Linked DNA regions of Homo sapiens: region 2 is linked to region 1. The links come from fine-mapping of genetic effects on plasma protein levels. Region 1 holds a variant in brackets. A gene starts in the other region. All regions are shown on their reverse strands.

What was found. PIP is the chance, under the fine-mapping model, that this variant and not a neighbour inherited with it causes the effect. The UK Biobank Pharma Proteomics Project read protein levels with antibody pairs (Olink). The fine-mapping took linkage between variants from a reference panel, not from the people measured, so its PIPs are less certain.
Region 2: TCL1A starts here. The variant in region 1 is fine-mapped to the plasma level of the TCL1A protein (UK Biobank, PIP above 0.99).

What each region holds. Positions count from the first base shown.
Region 1 is chr7:50,145,064-50,155,103 of GRCh38, reverse strand. It overlaps SPMIP7 (sperm microtubule inner protein 7), which reads right to left. Exons shown (of 9, transcript NM_001161834.3): 8 at 3,547-3,654. Among named protein-coding and RNA genes, the nearest start is that of SPMIP7, 54 kb to the right of the region's middle. RefSeq lists a silencer at 9,268-9,317. The variant C/T (reference allele first, on the strand shown) is at 5,517.
Region 2 is chr14:95,712,022-95,720,642 of GRCh38, reverse strand. It overlaps TCL1A (TCL1 family AKT coactivator A), which reads left to right and starts at 6,518. Exons shown (of 4, transcript NM_021966.3): 1 at 6,518-6,696; 2 at 8,247-8,423. The coding sequence starts at 6,577. LOC107984703 (a long non-coding RNA gene) reads right to left here and starts at 5,160. Exons shown (of 3, transcript NR_148060.1): 1 at 4,936-5,160; 2 at 3,075-3,172. RefSeq lists a silencer at 6,264-6,503 and enhancers at 6,734-6,783, 7,898-8,117, 8,158-8,317, 8,358-8,457.

The sequences.
Region 1 (10,040 bases):
TATTTGATAAGGGGTTAATATCCAAAATTTATAAAGAACTCATACAACTCAATAGCAAGAAAACATATAACCCAATTTAAAAAATGGGCAAAGGACCTGAACAGGCATGTCCCCAAAGACAACAAAAATGGTGATCTGGTGTATGAAAGAATGCTTAACATTGCTCATCGGGGAAATACAAACCACAGTGAGATATCACCTCACACCAATTAGAATGGCTGCCATTAAAAAGACAAGAGATAATAAGTGTTGATGAGCATGTAGAGAAATGATAGACTGTTGATGGGAATGTAGGTTGGTGAAGCCATTATGGAAAACAGTATGGAGTTTCCTAAAGAAATTAAACATAAAAATAACGTATTCCTTCTCTGGAGATACACTCAAAGGAAATGAAATTACCACCTCATAAAGATATCTGCATTCCTGTGTTCATTGCATCATATTCACAATAGCCAAGATATGGACACAACCTCGATGTCTGTTGATAGATGAATGGATAAAGAAAATGGAATATTATTCAGCCTTAAAAAGTAGGAGATCCTGCCATTTGCACAACACAGATGGACCTGGAAGTCATTTTGCTAATAGACACAGAAAGAAACATGTTGCACTATCTCACTTACATGTGGAATCTAACAAAGAAATAAAAGGTGAAATACACAGAGATAGTGAATAGAACAGTGGTTATGAGGGATTCGGTGGGGGGTGAGGCAACGGGAGATGTAGGTCAAAGGATGCTAAGTAGCAGACACGCAGGAGAAACAAGCCTGAGACATAAGATCCATCATGAGGACTACAGGGCGTCATAGTGCATCGTATTCAGGATTTTTGCTAACTGAGTAGATTATAGCTGCTCTGACCACAGGGGGAAGGGGAAAATGGGTAACTATGGCGATGACGGATATTAATGTGTTCACTATAGTAACCATTTTACTATATACCCATATGTCATCATAATATCATGTTGTTAGGATGATATACACAACAGAATTTATTTTTTAAATACATGCAAATATTGAGACTGGGAAAAAAATGTGTCTTGAGAAAAAAACAAATGCAAGTTATCAGCCTAGAAAGCCATTGACCTCCTTTTAAAATGTTTCTCATCAAATGGCCTGGAGAGATGCTAGAAAATTACCAATCCAGAAAGTGAGACGTGTTGATAAAGCCTCCTATTGGCAGGCACCTTAGAAAAGGCCAGGCACACAGGGCTTGTGGGATGCTTAGAATTGTCTGTATGCAGTGGCCTACAACAGGCTAGTCGGGGCCTGAGAGCCACCCCCTAGGGTGCCTTTACTGTGCCATGAGGAATGCTTGCTGCCCTCAATTACGTGGGACCAAGCCCCACTCCTTCAAGTCACTGCCTGAGCCACTCCTCTGTGAAGTCTTCTCTAGTGCCCCCTCCCAGAGCCCCAGGCAGCTTGTGTGTGCCTCAGTTTCCTTATCTGTAAAATGGTGATAGTAACATTCCCTTCCTCACAGGGTTCCTGGGACCGTGACATGAGTTAGTACCCACAAAGCACTCAGCCAACAGAAGTGATTATTAGTGTTAAGACATTTTTTGTCATCCTCTGCTGCAATTGTTTATTTCTCATTGAGAGATGGTGAGCTCCTTGCAAGCAGTTCTTGTGATTTATTGGAGCACAGTAAACATGCATTGACTTAGTAAAAGATCATGTGAATCCACCAGCAAATGGGTGAGTGAATAAAAGGATTAGCAGCTGGGTGGACCAGAAACCACAGCCCAAGAGGCCCATGCATGGCAGCTGTTCCCATTTATAGCCATTGCCTTTCTGAAAGTTTTAAGAAGCTGATCAGAGCAGGAGCTCTGGCTTGGTACCCATGGCCTGACAGTCACCTTTTCAGAAAGCTCTCCCTGACCACAAAGCTCAATAAGCCCCTTCTGAGGAACTCTCTCCTACATCAGTCTTTCTTTTTCATTTCACTAGCTAAGATTATTATTTCATTTCTTCAGTTACTTGTGTGCTTCTTTACTGTCTATCTTTCGTACCAGAAAATAAGCTCCTAAAAGCTGGGACCTTGTCTGTTCATCCCTGTATCTTCAGTGTCTTGAACAGTGCCTGGCCCAGAATTGATGCTCAATAAATGTTTGATAAGGCCAGGCACGGTGGCTCATGCCTGTAATCCCAGCAGTTTGGGAGGCCAAGGCGGGAGCATCACTTGAGGTCAGGAGTTTGAGACCAGCCTGGCCAACATGGGGAAACCCTGTCTCTACCAAAAATACAAAAATTAGCTGGGCGTGATAGTGCACGGCTGTAATTCCAGCTACTCAGGAGGCTGAGACATGAGAATCTCTTGAACCCAGGAGAAAGAGGTTGCAGTGAGCTGAGATCGCACCACTGCACTCCAGCCTGAGTGACAGAGTACTCTGTCTTAAATAAATAAATAAATAAATAAATAAATAAATAAATAAATAAAATGTGTGATAAACGAATGAATCCTCTACCAAAAGAATGTGATCTAGAACAAGCTCTCCTTTTGGGGGCGAACTGCCGTCCCTCTAGTCTGCCTTCCTACTGTGCTAGCATATTCATCTGCACTGGGCCAACAACTAGACATCGTTCAGACTGTGTTTGCATTTTCAAAACCGTTTGCAATGCCAGGAATTCCATCAGGTGCTTTCAAATTTGAGTTATAATAAATGAGTAACCATGTGCTCCTTCTCACTAGTAGCTTCAAATAAAGGAATCTTCAGTAACCTTGCATCTAACATTTCCTGTTTTCTGGGATTTTTTTTTTAGATGGAGTCTCACTCTGTTGCCCAGTCTGAAGTGCAGTGGCACTCTCATTTCACAGCAACCGCCACCTCCCAGGTTCAAGTGATTCTCCTGCCTCAGCCTCCCAAATAGCTGGGATTACAGGTGCCCACCACCACACTGGCTAATTTTTGTATTTTTAGTAGAGACAAGGTTTCACAATGTTAGTCAGGCTAGTCTCGAACTCCTGACCTCAAGTGATCTGCCCACCTCAGCCTCCCAAAGTGCTGGGATTACAGGCATGAGCCACCATGCCTGGCCACATCTCCTGCTTTCAATTTGCAAAATGTGGGTTTAAAAATATATGTGACTTTCAACAGAATTTTTTCTTTTATAAAAGTAAGGTGGCTGTTCACAAGAAGTAACTATGTATCTGATGTATGTTCCATGTGTCTTCTGATGATCATGCAGAAGGGTGATGTGTGTGCACAGCTGTGAGTCTAAGAAGTAAAGATGCCATTCCTCTAATGCGCCTGAAATACCTTCATATGCCCCTTTTGGCCACATTCGTAATAACATTAATCTAAACCTGGTTTTCAGTGTAATTTTGGGTAAGATTCAAAAAGGAAACACATACAAGGCTTAATAAAGTTCCCCTCAGTAGGAAAATGGAAAATTATCTTTTTTTCTGTTTCGGACTTGATGCCACATTTTTAAAAACAATGTAAATTTGCTTTTACTATTTAATTGTTCTTTAATGGAATAACCACAATTAGGATTTCCCCTCCTAATGTATCTGAGCAAATTGAGTAATAGGATTCATACTTACCGGTGCAGTTCTGAATCTGGTGATGGGGTTGTTGATGGAATATTAGAATTTGCTGGGTGGGTGGCTGTGAAATGAACCTTGCCGGTATATCCTGGAATATTTGCAGCACTAAAGTGAAGAGTTAAGAGAGGAGGAAAAGAGGAAATTAAAATGATGATTTGTGAAATTGTCATGGTAACTAGCACCCAAATATGAAAAATATAAAGAAATATGCAGTCTAATTTTTTTTTTCCTGTATGAGGTGTGGAACTTGGGCTGTCCAAAAAGGAAACAGTGCAGGCCTGGGGCGTGCTGATGCACAGGTACTTAGATAACAGCCCTATGCTGGGGTCGATAAAATTTATTTCAAGTTCATGTTTTTCTGCTATTTTAAATTTCCATGTCTTTTACAAACATGACTCACTGCTGAGCTCTGTTTCATAATGAAGGAAGATACCAGGTCTTGACAGAGTGGCAGACCTGTATCCCACACATATTTCTGTAATGCAGACTCTAATATTAATGAATATACACTCTTACATTTATAGCATTGTTACTTTTATCAGATATCTTTCTTATCACCATTAATGTACTGCATTGTAAATTTCAGATGATTTCCTAAAATTGCCCATTGGAAACAAACGTACACCAGCATTAATTCTACAACAGTCTGTTTAGAATTTGAATTTAAACAGTTTAGTTTGAATTCCACTGACTCTTCTGCTTCCCTGTTCTTTTCTCCACCAGGGACAGTGGGAGATAAAAGGAAAACACAAGAGTGAAGAAGCCGTTCTTCAGTGTGTATAAAAGCTCTCTCTCTCCAGAAAAGGCAAACGAGCATTCAAGAGAAAGGCTTAAGTAGGTAGTTCAGAGGAAGGAATGTGAAGAATAATGAATATTCTTGCCATGATAGCACACAAGTTGGTTTACACAGATTATTTCCTAGGAGGTGGGTAAGGCTTATGGGACAGGCCCAGCATGAAGCTCCATCCTGTGTGCTGCAAGGAGTTGAGGAAAATAAGATTTAAATTGTATTTCAAAGTCCAAGAACACAACATTTACAGATCATGAGGCTCTGTGTAATAGCCTACCATCTTTGCAGAGTCGTATCAACGCCATGGCCTCAGCTTACTGTGCTGGCCTCAGGGAGGAATAAGAAAGGCCACCATCATGAACTTGCCCCCAGGGAGGAAAGGGCCAGTGGGCAGATTGCAAATTTCATTCATCTCAGTGGCTTTCACTTGCCATCCTTGGACCTTTCTCTGAGAGCAGGACATCCTTGTGGCATGGTTCCCTATTCAAAATTGGTGCCCAGACAAAATGCAACACAGTAGCAACAAGCAAACCTCTGTGGGTGGTGGAGGAATGGTTCTTCAATGGCTGCCTTGGTTATATCCATGACCTTCCCACACGACCAGTAAGCCACACAAAGCCTTCTCCAGGAACCACTTATCTTAGGAGTAATTTTCAAAATTTGGAGCTTATAGGAGTTGCTCCTGAAAGTATCAGGTGACAAGGCAGGCAGAAGAGAGGTTAGTGAAAGGGGTGTGTGCTTAAGGGTTGGGAGGAAGATTCAGTCCCCGGTTCCCCATGTCATCTCTGGGATCTGGACTGGACATAGTCTTTTGGAGCCTTCTAGCCTCAGCCTGACCCCGGGTAGTGATACCAACCGGAAGGACTTGGGTGAGGGAGAAGTGGAAACGAGAAGGATTCACACTGCAATTTCTTGGTGTCCTTCCCACATTGATTATGTGCAAGTATCAGAATGTTAGGGGGAAAATACATATCAGGCAGGGAATTGCACTAATAAATCTCCTAATTCTCTTCCAGCTGTGTAATTTATGACTCTGTTGGTGATGACTTATTGGCTTGCAGGTGATATAATCAAGGACACCCAGAGACTAACAAAGTGAAGGGAAATTACATCTATGGCAACAGCAGAATAAACAGTACAAAATAACAGATTTTGTGAGACTAGGAAAATAAGGCAG[C/T]TAAAGAGTGGGGGCAGCCCACTGCATCGAGAAGCAGGCTTCTGTGGCAAGCCTGACTCTGCCCCTTAACCAACTGTGAGGTTTTACTCCAGTGAAGAAAGCTCTCTGGGCTTCAGCTCGGTCAACTGCAGCATGAAGAGGACAACACTAACCTCTTAGGGGCACTCTGGGGATTAGAGGAGACTTCAATGAATATGAAAACAGCTAGCAAATTGTTAGCACTTAATAGATGCTAAACTAATTTCAGTTGAAATACAGTAATTTAAAGAAATAAAACATTTACAAAATAAGGGCCATGCACATGGGGATTGCAAAGTTTATCCAGTACAGACAGCTGAAAAGATGCTAAGACAGAGGTTCCCAATGGTGCTGCACACTGACATCTCAGAGGCATCTTGAAAGGTACCAATGCCTGGCTCCCACTCCCACATTTTTTTTTTTTTTAGATGGAATCTCGCTGTATTGCCCAGGCTGGAGTACAGTGGCACAATCTCGGCTCACTGCAACTTCCACCTCCTGGGTTCAAGTGGTTCTCCTGCCTCAGCCTCCTGAGTAGCTGCTATTACAGGTGTGCACCACCATGCCCAGCTAACTTTTGTATTTTTAGTAGAGTCGGGGTTTCACCCTGTTGGTCAGGCTGGTCTTGAACTCCTGACCTTGTGATCCACCCGCCTCGGCCTCCCAAAGTGCTGGGATTACAGACGTGAGCCACCGTGCCCGGCCCAGCCCCATATTTTAATGTAACTAGTAAGTGGTGTAGCCTGAGCACTGGGACTTTTGACAGCTCTCCAGATGATTCTCCTGTGCTGCTAAGTTCAGGAGCCTCTGTTTTACAGCCACATTGTCAAGCTTGCTGGAGGGACCTAGGTGAGTGAACTGAAGCTGCTGAATTCTAGGCAGTGCCCTGCAGGATTTTTTGGAATTTTGTTGGAAAAGTGCAGCTGTAAGTTAGAGAGGTAACCCAGAATGAGGCAAAGTTATTCATGCGTGTGTCTCTCCCCCAACCATTCATTAAAGCTTCCATGCATGTTACAAAGGAAATCCCCTCCATCTGTGTGAAAGGTTTTTTCCACTGCCTTTGAAAACACCTGCAGAATTAAAATGCCTCTAAAGTCATATCCTGCCATCAGAGCAGTTAAGAAGTCAGAGGGATGGACGCAGGCCATCTGTCAATCACATGAAAGGCTTGATAAAAAACATTGCACAGCCTCTGTGCCTCTGTGGCATGCATGTTATTGATGCTAAATGGTATCATATGTTACATTGTCTTAATGCTATTAGATTACATCATATTTAATAATAACATTTCATGGAAGATTAGACTGATTAGCTGCTCAGTCTTGGGAATGAATTCAGTTGCATAATAAATTGCCAAATATTTGAAAACGAAAGTCCTCACCCACACTGCTTCTAAATCTACTCCATTTAACCCTGGCACATATGGCCATAACAAGGGGAATTTTGCCATCTTAAGTGCAACACAGCGACCTTATATTAAGAGGAGAATACTCTCTGGGGAACACTTTAGACTGCTGCTGATAGGAGATATTATTTTTCAGCTGGAGGGAACAAAGCTATTAAAGATACTGAAACATACAAGCCGGGAAATGGATTTCCAGGTTAGTCGCATGTTCAAAGAATTCCACTCCCCATTTGAGGAAAGTAGAGAGACGCAGAGACCCACTTAAAAATAAGAAGTCTTCATTTTTGCCTTTGCTCCACAGCTTCTAGTCCTTTAAATACCTTATTTTGTACTCCCTAGTTCCAAATAAGCCAGGATTTTGTTCACTAATTGATAAATTTGAATATATTATTGCCCAAGTCTACAATGAATTGGTTCTCAACCAAACATGATAAAATAGAAATTAAGTAATTTAAGAAAATCAAGAAGTTTAGTAACTCAGAAGAAGGGAGCACAGATGGTATATAAGTTAAATATGAGAGGAAAAATGTGGAGAAAACCATGTTATACGTAGAATATATGTATTGTATATGTGCATAAAATTTAGGCATGCATAGAAATTCTCACTCTACACTGTAAACATGACTAATAGTCATTGAGTATGTTCTATATTCCAGGCACCCTTTTAAATGCTTGATGTAAATTGACTGTTTAATTCTCACAACAATCTTGTGTCATAGGTCCTATGATCATGTCCATTTTATAGATGGAGAAACTGACACAGAGAAAGTCTAAGTATCATGGCCAGCACCAACCAAGCTGGCAAGTGGTAGAACTGGACCTCAGTGCAACTGAACTGAATAGGAAGGACCATTGGCATTACTCCCAGCCCAGCCAGGAGAGCCTCATTAGCTCACAGTGGGCTGCAATTATACAGGGTGGGGTGTAAGTGCAGGTTCAAATCAATGTGATAGTCTTTTATTTAGAGCCATTCTATATCAGCTACAGTTCTAGGCAGACATCAAGCTGACTTAGCTCCCAACAGCTTTCACACTAATACTTTTAATTTAAAAAATGCACATTTAAATGTTTAAAGATCCCAAGTGAACAAAGACCATGGATGCGACATAAGGGAGGGGGGTGTGAGACAGACACATTTAATTCCAGGGCTGCCCTGACCAGCTGTGTGAACTTAGACCTCAACTGAAGTTTTCTCAGGCATCCTCACCTATAATTGGCCATCAGTCAGGGTAGCTGCACTCCCTTGGAGGGTGCTGGGGGCGATGTGATGCAAGTAAAGGCCTGGCACAGTGCCCAGCATGCAGCAGGTGCAGACCCATGTGAGAGGAGCAGCAGGTCATGGATGGAAGTTAGGGTGGGCAAGGGGAGCAGAAAGTGGGAGACGGAGGAAGAGTAGTAAATTCCAGGCTTGGACTTTAAGGAGGGTCAGCCCAGAGGGCTGAGAGAAGGGAAGGACTGCAGAGAACTGTGAGGCAGATGTGGCTGGAGGGGAAAAGACAGGAGTCCATTGTGAGTTGGGGTTTGTCTGATTTTATTGTTCAATGACAAATGCAAATAAAACTGGAATCATTTTGCAATGACTTTGATCACTGGATTGCATTTTTCTGAATATCATAAGATGTCGTGGCCACAAGATATTTTTTAGGAATTGCAGGTTTATTGATTATTCTCTTCATCTGGTGGGTATATTCTTTCCTCCTGTGTTCTTGGGATCTTCAATTCTTCCATTTAGGAGGGAATGTAGAAACAGTATAACTCAAAGCTCCAAGAACCCATTATTTGCCAAAGGCAGAAGCCACGTTTAATGTGAGTTAAGGCAAGAGCTTGCCCTGGGGATTAAGAGGCCAGTTCTCTGGACTTTTTACCACTCATGAAATGAGTGATCTTGGCTCTTTATGCCATTTCCTCTGGCCTCAGCCTCCTCATCTGCAAAATGGGGATAGAACTTGCACCTTCATTTCTGGCCTCATCACACTATTTGAAAAACAAATGAGGGAGTGTGTGAAAGTAGTCTGAAAAGGCAGAAGTATTGGGCTGATCTAAGGAACTACTATTCATAGAGTTATTCTTTAACCTGGGTTGTGGTAAAATTTTGTTAAGCTGCAACACAGTCCAGCGACTGACAGGGAAGCCCCCTTTTCCATGGGAGACATGTGCCAGGGGCTGCCTGGGGGTCCATGTTGGACAATTCCTCTTTATTTGCAAATGCTTCCTCAGAGCAATCATTGAGGTCAAAAAGCACAGTAAATATGAAACCTTGTAACGTCCTTAGATAAAAGATTATAACTTAGTGGAGGATGGTACCTCATAGGCAGCTGCCTAGTTTGGAAAAACAAGCAAATGGTGACTGCAAGTGCTGGGTTTGGGTTCAGAAGGCATGGGCTGTGCTGCTCTGTTAGCTGGGCCTGCACCTCACCTTTGCTGAGCCTGTTTATTCTTTGGAAATACAAGTGTGAGATGCATATATGTTAGATCTCAGGGCTCTCTCCCATATATGTAAGATGTATATATATATATATATATATATATATATATATATATATATACACACACATATACACACACACACACACACACGCACATATATATATATACATATATATATATGTATATATAATCTACAATAGAGTCTGTTACAAAAGAAAAAGTACCCCAACACTCTTTCCATATCCTTGGGAAAGGACAGAGATCTGCCATTACAGATGATTCAATTTTTATGTTCCTTGTACTGATGACTCATGACTGCAAAGCACTGAAATTATATGGGACTGTAAAATGGTTACTAAAAGGGACTGAGCTTATCTTCAAACTTGTTCACCGAGCCCTTGCAAAGAATATGGATCTTATACTGAAGAGGATAAAAACAACAGATTTGAAAAACAGGATTCTTTTTTTTTTTCATTTTTGAGACAGGGCCTCTGTCACCCAGGCTGGAGTGCAGTGGCGCGATCTTGGCTCACTGCAACCTTCACCTCCCAGGCTCAAGCGATTCTCCTGCCTCAGCCTCCCTAGTAGCTGGGATTACAGGCGCTCACCACCAAGCCTGGCAAATTTTTGTGTTTTTTAGTAGAGATGGGGTTTCACCATGTTGGCCAGCCTGA
Region 2 (8,621 bases), not on the chromosome of region 1:
AGAGCATCTAAATATATAATGCAAATATTAATAGACCTGAAGAGAGAGATAGACTGCAATACAATAATAGTAAGGGAACTTAATACCTCCACTTTCAACAATGGAGAGATCATCCAGAGAGAAAATCAATACAGAAATATTGAACTTGAGCTACACTTTAGACAAAATGGACCTAACAGACATATACAGAACATTCTATACAACATAAGCAGAATATATTCTCAAGAGCACAGAGAACCTTCTATAAGATAGATTATATGTTAGGCCACAAAACAAGTGTTAACAAATTTAAAAAAATTGAAATCACATCAGGTATCTTTTCCAATCACAATGGCATGAAACTAGAAATCAATAGGAGGAATTTTGAAAATTCACAAGTATGTGGAAATTAAACAACATGCTCCTAAACAACCAGTGGTTGAAGAAGAAATTACAAGGAAAATTTAAAAATATTTTGAAACAAATGAAAGTGGAAACACAACATACCAAAACATATGAGATGTAGCAAAAGCAGTTCTAAGATGGAAGTTTATAGCAATAAATGCCTACATCAAAAAAGAAGGATCTTAAATAAACAACCTAACATCATACCTCCACAAACTGGAAAAAGAAGAAGAAATTAAGGTTTAAATTAGCACAAGAATGGAAATAATAAAGATCAGAGCAGAGATAAATGAAATATACTAGAAAAACAGTAGAAAAGATCAAGGAAACTAGGAGTTGATGTTTTGAAAAGAGCAAAATCAATAGAGCTTTAGTTAGACTAAAAAGAGAAGACCTAAATAAACAAAATCAGAAATGAAAGATGAAACATTACAACTGATACCACAGAAATATAAAGGTTCATAAGAGCCTGCTATGAATAATGTTGTGCCAACAAATTGGATAAACTAGAAGAAATGGACGAACTCCTAGACATATATAACCTAGTAAGACTGAATCATGAAGAAACAAAAAATCTGAACAGAGCAATAACAAGTGAGAAGATTGAATCAGTAATAAAAAGTCTCCCATCAAAGAAAAGCCCCACAACCTGATGCTTCACTGCTGAATTCTACCAAACATTTAAAGAACTAATACCAACCCTTCCCAAGTGCTCCAAAAAATTGCAGAAGAAGGAATACTTCCAAATTTATTGTATAAGGCCAGCATTACCCTGATACTAAAGTCAGACAAGGACACTGCAAGAAAAAAATATATTACAGGCCAATATCCCTGATGAATATAGATGTAAAAATCCTCAACAAAATACTCGCAAACTGAATTCAACAGCACATCAAAAGGATCATTCATCATTATCAAATGATATTTATCCCAGGGATACAAGGATAGTTCAACGTGCACAAACCAGTAAAAGTAACACATCACATTAACAGAATGAAGGACAAAAACCATATGATCATCTCAATAGATGCAGAAAAGGCATTTGACAAAACTGAATATCCTTTCAAGGTAAAAACTCTCGACAAATTAGGTCTAGAAGGAATGTACCTCAGTACAATGAAGCATATATGACAAGTCCACAGCTAATGTCATACTGAATAGTAAAAAGTTTAAGGCTTTTTCTCTAAGATCAGGAACAAGAGAAGGATGCTCACTCTCACTGCTTCTAATCAGCACAGAACTGGAAATCCTAATCAGAGCAACAGGTAAAAGAAAGAAAAGGCATCCAAATGAAAAGGAAGAAGTTAAATTGTCTCGGTTTGTAGAGGACATGATCTTGTATGTATAGAAAACTCCTAAAGATTCCATCCAAAAGCTGTTCGAACTGATAAATGAATTCAGTAAAACTGCAGGATACAAAAACCAACATACAAAAATCAGTAACATTTCTATACACTAATAATGAGCTATGTGAAAAAGAAATTTTAAAAATCCCATTCACAATAGCTACAAAAAATAATAAAATACTTAGGAATAAATGTAAGCAATGAGGTGAAAGATCTGAACACGCAAAACTACAAAATACCCATGACAGAAACTGAAGAAGACACAAACGAATGGAACAATATCTCATGTTCATAGATTGAAGGAATTAAAATTATTAAAATGTTCATCCCACTCAAAGCAACCTACATATTCAACGCAATCCCTACCAAAATTCCAACAACACTTTCACATTAACAGAAAAAATAATCCTAAAATTCATATGGAACCACAAAAGGTCTGAATAGCTAAAACATTTTTGAACAAAACAGAAAAACAAAAACAAAGCTGTAGGCATCATAGCATCAGTAGGACAGTAACACCCAAGGTGTGGAGTAATCCCAGGATTGAGAAATGTTTCCAGTACAAATGTAGGTCAATTTTAACTTGCCTCTGGCAAATGGCAACCACAGTTGTAGCTCAAAGTGTCCAGTGCAATTCTATCACATCTTGGTCACTCGCTAGCTTGGCAGAATCAACTATTCGCTGCATTTTGAGTAGGGGTTGTGAGTTGTGTTTTTCATTTGTGTTTTGTGTGGGTATCAAGGGTAGCATGGGGGTTAGTATAGGTCCTTGCCACCCAGAGGTGATTTATAGACCATTAGTACCTGTATCAACTCCGAGGATATGAATATGTTACAAATTCAGAATCTTGAGAATCGCCTCAACCCTACCATATTAGAATCTGTATTTAAATAAAATCTCCATATACACCTTAAAGTTGGAGAAGCTTTAAGTTCCTTAGAACTGTTAATTTTAAAGAGAGAGATGATAGCTATGTAGTGGGCAGAGTAGGATCAGTCCCTAATTTCTACTTGAAATATCCTTGTCTCAGATTCTCCATTAATTTAGAGATACCATTTCATCCCTTATGAGTAAAGGCTACAACATCTTTTGTACCCTGAACTCACTTGATCAGCAGCCTTAATTATTTCAACTATGGCCCAGACCTAGGAACTAAAAAAAAAAAAAAAAAAACAAAAAAAAAAACAGGCTGGGCACGGTGGCTCATGCCTGTAATCCCAGCACTTTGGAAGGCCGAGGTGGGAGGATCACCTGAGGTCAGGAGTTCAAGACCAGCCTGACCAACATGAAGAAACCCCATTTCTACTAAAAATACAAAATTAGACAGGCGTGGTGGCGCATACCTGTAATCCCAGCTACTCGGGAGGCAGAAGCAGGAGAATCGCTTGAACCCAGGAGGTGGAGGTCGCAGTGAGCCAAGATCACACCATTGCATTCCAGCCTGGGCAACAAGAGGGAAACTCTGTCTCAAAAAACAAACAAACAAACAAAACACTCCAGGCATGGATGCCTTAATAGCTACATATATATCACAGATTCTGTGTTTTACACATTAGCAAGATCTCAGACCCTTATGATTCCAATAAACTTAGGGCTATGGATCCCTGACCACGAAGGATTGGAAGCAGCAAAGTAGGGCAAAGGGAAAGAAGTAAAATATGGAGTTGGGGTGAAGTTTACAATGAGAATTGATGGTAGAAAGAATAGCTTTGACATTTTCGTAGTTATTTAGATTTATAAATCTGTGCACACGTCAAAAACAGTCACTCAGATCTTAGAGAAATTGTACTTAACCCTGCCTACGTGTTAGCATCACCTACTTTTCTCAAGCCTCAATCTCGGAGATTCTGATGTAATTGGTTTGGAGTGGGATCCAGGCGCAGGTGTTTCATTAAAGCTTCCCAGGTGATTCTTAGTGGTTTAGGCTCAGTCATCATAGGGCCCAAAGGCCTAAACACCTAAGTAGCCTCTAAATAGGCTCTTTCCAGCTTGCTATAATCATTGACAATCAAGGACCCCAGGGTTGGTGAGGATGACCTTGGTTACTAGGATTTTCTTTTAAGAGGAAAACACTCTATATATTAGAGGTGATTTTGGCAGAAAATAAGATAGCCTGGAAGTAAATGATACACAAACACCGATATAAGTCCTGTGTCATAGTTGGAGAAATCTGGAGGGCACTGGTGTGTTGAATCAGACACCCCCTATCTCTCCCTCTTGACCCTCCCTCCATATAGCCCAACATTTACCATGCCCGTGAATCACCTGGGGGTCTTGTTCCAATACAGATTCTGACTCAGTAGTCTTGGGGGAGGCTCCAGATTCTGTCATTCTTACGAGCTCCAGGTGATGCTACTGTAGCTGGTCCAGGGACAACACTTTGAGTCAAGGTCATCCTGATGGCCTTGACTACTCCTCAACCCCTTCTTTGGAACCCAAACAAGAAGAATGGCTCCCATGAATTCCACTGGGGTCCTTGATCTACAGCCACTGTACCAAAAACTGTAGGCATTCCTGAACTAACATCATATATTTTGTCCATCTCTTTTCTTAACTATTCCCTCCTCCCACTAGGCAATGTTATAGGAGGATTGGGGCCTACTGAGTTAGAAACAAGCTTAGAGAGCAGGTATTTTGCCCCATTCATTACAAAACTATGGCACTGAGGCCAAGTTGCAAAGGATTTGTCAAGTTCACAGGTGATCGTGGTAAAGGCAAAACTAGATCTAAATCAGGACATGAACGCATCCATTAAGGATTCTGTCAAAATGATTGCTTCCTGTAGCTTTCTGTGTGAAACATCCATTTGCTTATCCTCAGGGAAATCAGACTAACAAAGACTTGGAAAGGAACATAAAATTCTAAAGCTAGGCTTATGGCCTTTATAACCCTTAGATGGGGCAGATAACATGCCACGGAGGCTCAGAGACAGCTCTGAGACTATGCAATAGCTACTGTTTCCCCTCTTGTGGAATGTTCACTTAAAAAAGCTCAAGGGCTCTATAAGTTGCCCAATGAACTCCACAGACATCCTTAATTCATTTTCATTTATTGGAACCCTCTCTCAAATAATTTTCTAAATCTCACGCAATAATGATGTATATTCTTGCTCAATATTAAGAAGCCCTCATGCAAAACTGAAGAAATAAATTGTTCTTACAAAAGAAGGAAAAAGGAATTATATTCTCAGAACATTCTGCTTACCCAGACACACAGATCTGATTCTTGCTCCATTGTTTGTGGCATTCTGGATCCTAGGGCCATTGATGAGGCTGGGTCAGTGGCCACACTGGCTCCTGGGTACCCCTTCCCTGGCCACAAAAGTCCATCCCAGCAGCACTATTTAAACTGGACTTATTTCTCACTTCACAGCTCTGGCCTGGGCTGAGACCTCCCCAACAGAGCTTATTAGCGAGCTTGTCATCTTGCTCTGTGGCTATCTAGGTCTGGAGTCAAGAGCCATTCACAGGAAAATCAGCATGAAACCTTTAAGTTTGCATATTAAATATTAACACCACTAAGGGCTACAGTGGAAAAGAGGTTTGCTGAGCTCAAGGGCCCTCACTCCACCCCCAACTTCCCTTGGCTTTTCTCTTCTATGTTGTGTTCCTGGTAAATCCCATTATGTCTCGACTACCTTAGGCCCTCTCAGCCCCTTCTTGGGAATTAGGCTCTCTGGATAGGCAAAGAGGCAGATACCCAGCTGCCAGGTGAATCAGATGTCCTCATCAGATCTCTTAATTTCCACTTTGGTGATATTTCAAAGGATCACAAATTATGTTCTTAGTGCCTGGTCAGAGAACTGGGAAAGAGCTGGAAGATGAGACACCAAACTCCATCCCATGGTGATGTTTGAACCAGGCTGGAGCTGGTTTCACATGTTTTTCATTGTGCATGACTTTCTTAATTGCCTTAGTGGGAATGCGTTACTGCAAAATAAAGTGAAATTGTTTTCCTTATTGCTTGTAATTTACAGAGGGGTGGTTTTGATCATATAAACCAGGCACTTTTCAAATCCATTGATCTTAGGGTGGAAGGAGGGATTTCTTTTTAAGTATTCATTTCGAACTATGCTTTCACTAGTAAACTCAAAGCCCAAGGGCAAAAACCCATGATTCTCCATTTTGTAATAGCTATTAGATGTCCACAGCACATCAGACCTGTGGAAAACGCATGCTTTGTGTATGGAAGAGGGAGAGGGAGCGTCAGGAGTTGTCCTTTGCCAAAAAACGTACTCTGACACTCAAAGGCACAGGCTGGTGGAGATCCAGGGAACCCGGGAAAGCCCAGGCCTAACTCAGGCCCGCGCGGGTCTCTTCTGATCCCATAAGATGAGGAGTGGGTCCTGGCTCTGGGCATCCTGGTGTCGACTGTGAGTTCCCAGCAGAGGCCCAGAGTCCCGGTCCGGCAGCCGAGGGAAGCGGGGGGGTCTTCCAGAAGAAGAAAGGGCCAAGGTCACCCCGGTGCCTCTCCAGCAGCAGCAGAGGGCGGCGGTCGGTGTCGCTGCTGGCCGGGGCCTCGAGGAAGGCGCGGGCCAGCTGGGGCCGGGTCTGCGTTCCCAGGAGCTGCCACCGTTCCAGGGAGCAAGTCAGGCCGGGACGTAGCGCCTGCGCGGGACCCTCACTTGCCACCAAGACCCCCACAAACCCCGCCCCATCCTGCCTTACGCCCCGCCCCAAGGTCGTTCTCCCGACCCGGGGTCCCGCCCCAAGGCCGTCCTCCCGCCCCGCCGCTTGGTGGCGGCCGCATGCTGCCCGGATATAAAGGGTCGGCCCCACATCCCAGGGACCAGCGAGCGGCCTTGAGAGGCTCTGGCTCTTGCTTCTTAGGCGGCCCGAGGACGCCATGGCCGAGTGCCCGACACTCGGGGAGGCAGTCACCGACCACCCGGACCGCCTGTGGGCCTGGGAGAAGTTCGTGTATTTGGACGAGAAGCAGCACGCCTGGCTGCCCTTAACCATCGAGGTACAGCCAGCTTTGGAGCGGATGGCGAGGCAGCAGGGGCAGCCCCTGGGAGCTTGGGATGCCCTAGGAAGGGCGAGGACTCAAGGAGCACTCACTATGGGGCAGGGAGGATCCCCACAGATGAAGCCACTTTGAGCCGGGCTCTGGAGGATGAATAGGAGTTCTCCAGGCAGGGAAGAAGGGTGGGAAAACCGCAAAGGAATGTCGGTCAAAGGGGTGGACCCAGTGCCTGTGGAGTGTGACTATAATGTTGACTACAGCAGGCATTTTCTGGGCTTCGGGGTCCTAATCCTTAAAAATGGGTATCTCTAAGTGACTCATCCATATGGCCGATTATCGGAATCATCTCAGGTGGGTCCCAGAAATCTGTATTTTTAAAAAGAACCCTCAACAGTTTAGGGTCAACCAGGCATAGCAAACACTGGCCTAGAGTGTGAAGTATTTTCCACTACCTCTGGGCTTTATTTAGAAAACAAATTTAACAAGTGATGTCGTAGTATAAGCGCCGGTATTGAATCAATATTGACTTTTTTAATGTGTGATGCCTTAAGATGGGTCCTTAATCCATGTTAAGTTTTTGTTAAAGAAATAGATAAGTCTTTTACAAGTATTTGGATTTACTCAATGAAAAAGAGTCAAAAAATGTTCAAACTCTCTCCAAACATACACTGAAGAAAGCATAAAAATTAAAAAATATATTAGAACACGTATGTCCAGTAGCAATCAAAAATTATTGAGTGTTGACTGTGTCTCTACAGATGGGAAACTGAGGCACAAAAATGTACATTTGTCCGAGGTAAGATTGCTAGTAGGTAATGGGGTTGGAATTCTAGGCTCTTAACCACCACAAAATCTGCATTTTTATTGGCATTTCAATTTTTTAAATATGTTTTTACTTTAAAAATCAAGTTAAATACTTACTTTTTTAAAATCAAAATTTGAAGAAATAATTTGAAGATTCAGTGGATTTCTTTTTTTAAATCTCTGAGAAATCTCTTCTTCAACGTGACACCAAAACCACGAACCAGACAGTTTTTCATAAAATCATGATACATGCTCCACAAAAAATAACCCACTAGCAAACTGTGGGACAGATTTTGCCTCACATCATTGAAAAGGCCAGTATTCTTTTTCTCTCTTTCTTTCTTTGTTGTTTTTTTTTTTTCCTGTAGATACAGGGTCTCGCTCTGTGACCCAGGCTGGTCTTAAACTCCTGGCCTCAAGCGATCCTCCTGCCTCTGCCTTCCAAAGCACTGGAATTACAAGTGTGAGCCGCTGCAACCCGCCAGAAAAAAGTGTGCCTTTCATGGCCCTGTCTGGGTGGCTAGACACGTGTGTGTGCTGGTGGTCCTGGCCCAGCCAGAGTCCCTGAGAGGAGCATGCATGGCCTAAGGAAGTGAGCTTCAGGGAACAGTGATGACCATCATTTCACACTCGGACCCCTGCCCAGATGGGTGGATGGCTGGCAGGAGGGATTCCGGTTTTCTGCGCCTGGAGAAGCCCTGGCAAGCGGAACCTGAAAGTATGCCCTGTCCTTTTCTTCTCCTCAGATAAAGGATAGGTTACAGTTACGGGTGCTCTTGCGTCGGGAAGACGTCGTCCTGGGGAGGCCTATGACCCCCACCCAGATAGGCCCAAGCCTGCTGCCTATCATGTGGCAGCTCTACCCTGATGGACGATACCGATCCTCAGACTCCAGTTTCTGGCGCTTAGTGTACCACATCAAGGTGAGTGTCTTTCTCCCAGAGGTCCATCGGGTGATCTTGGGTTTGCCCTCCTCCATGTCTGGCCTTAGTGGTTTATCTTCCCTCCATCCCAGTCCCAAAAGCATTAAAAAATGGGGGAAATGTACAAGTGCAGATTTCTAAAGGACTTTACCAGAGAGAAGATAGATCCTCTGAGGTCTCTAACAGAACCCTACCTCC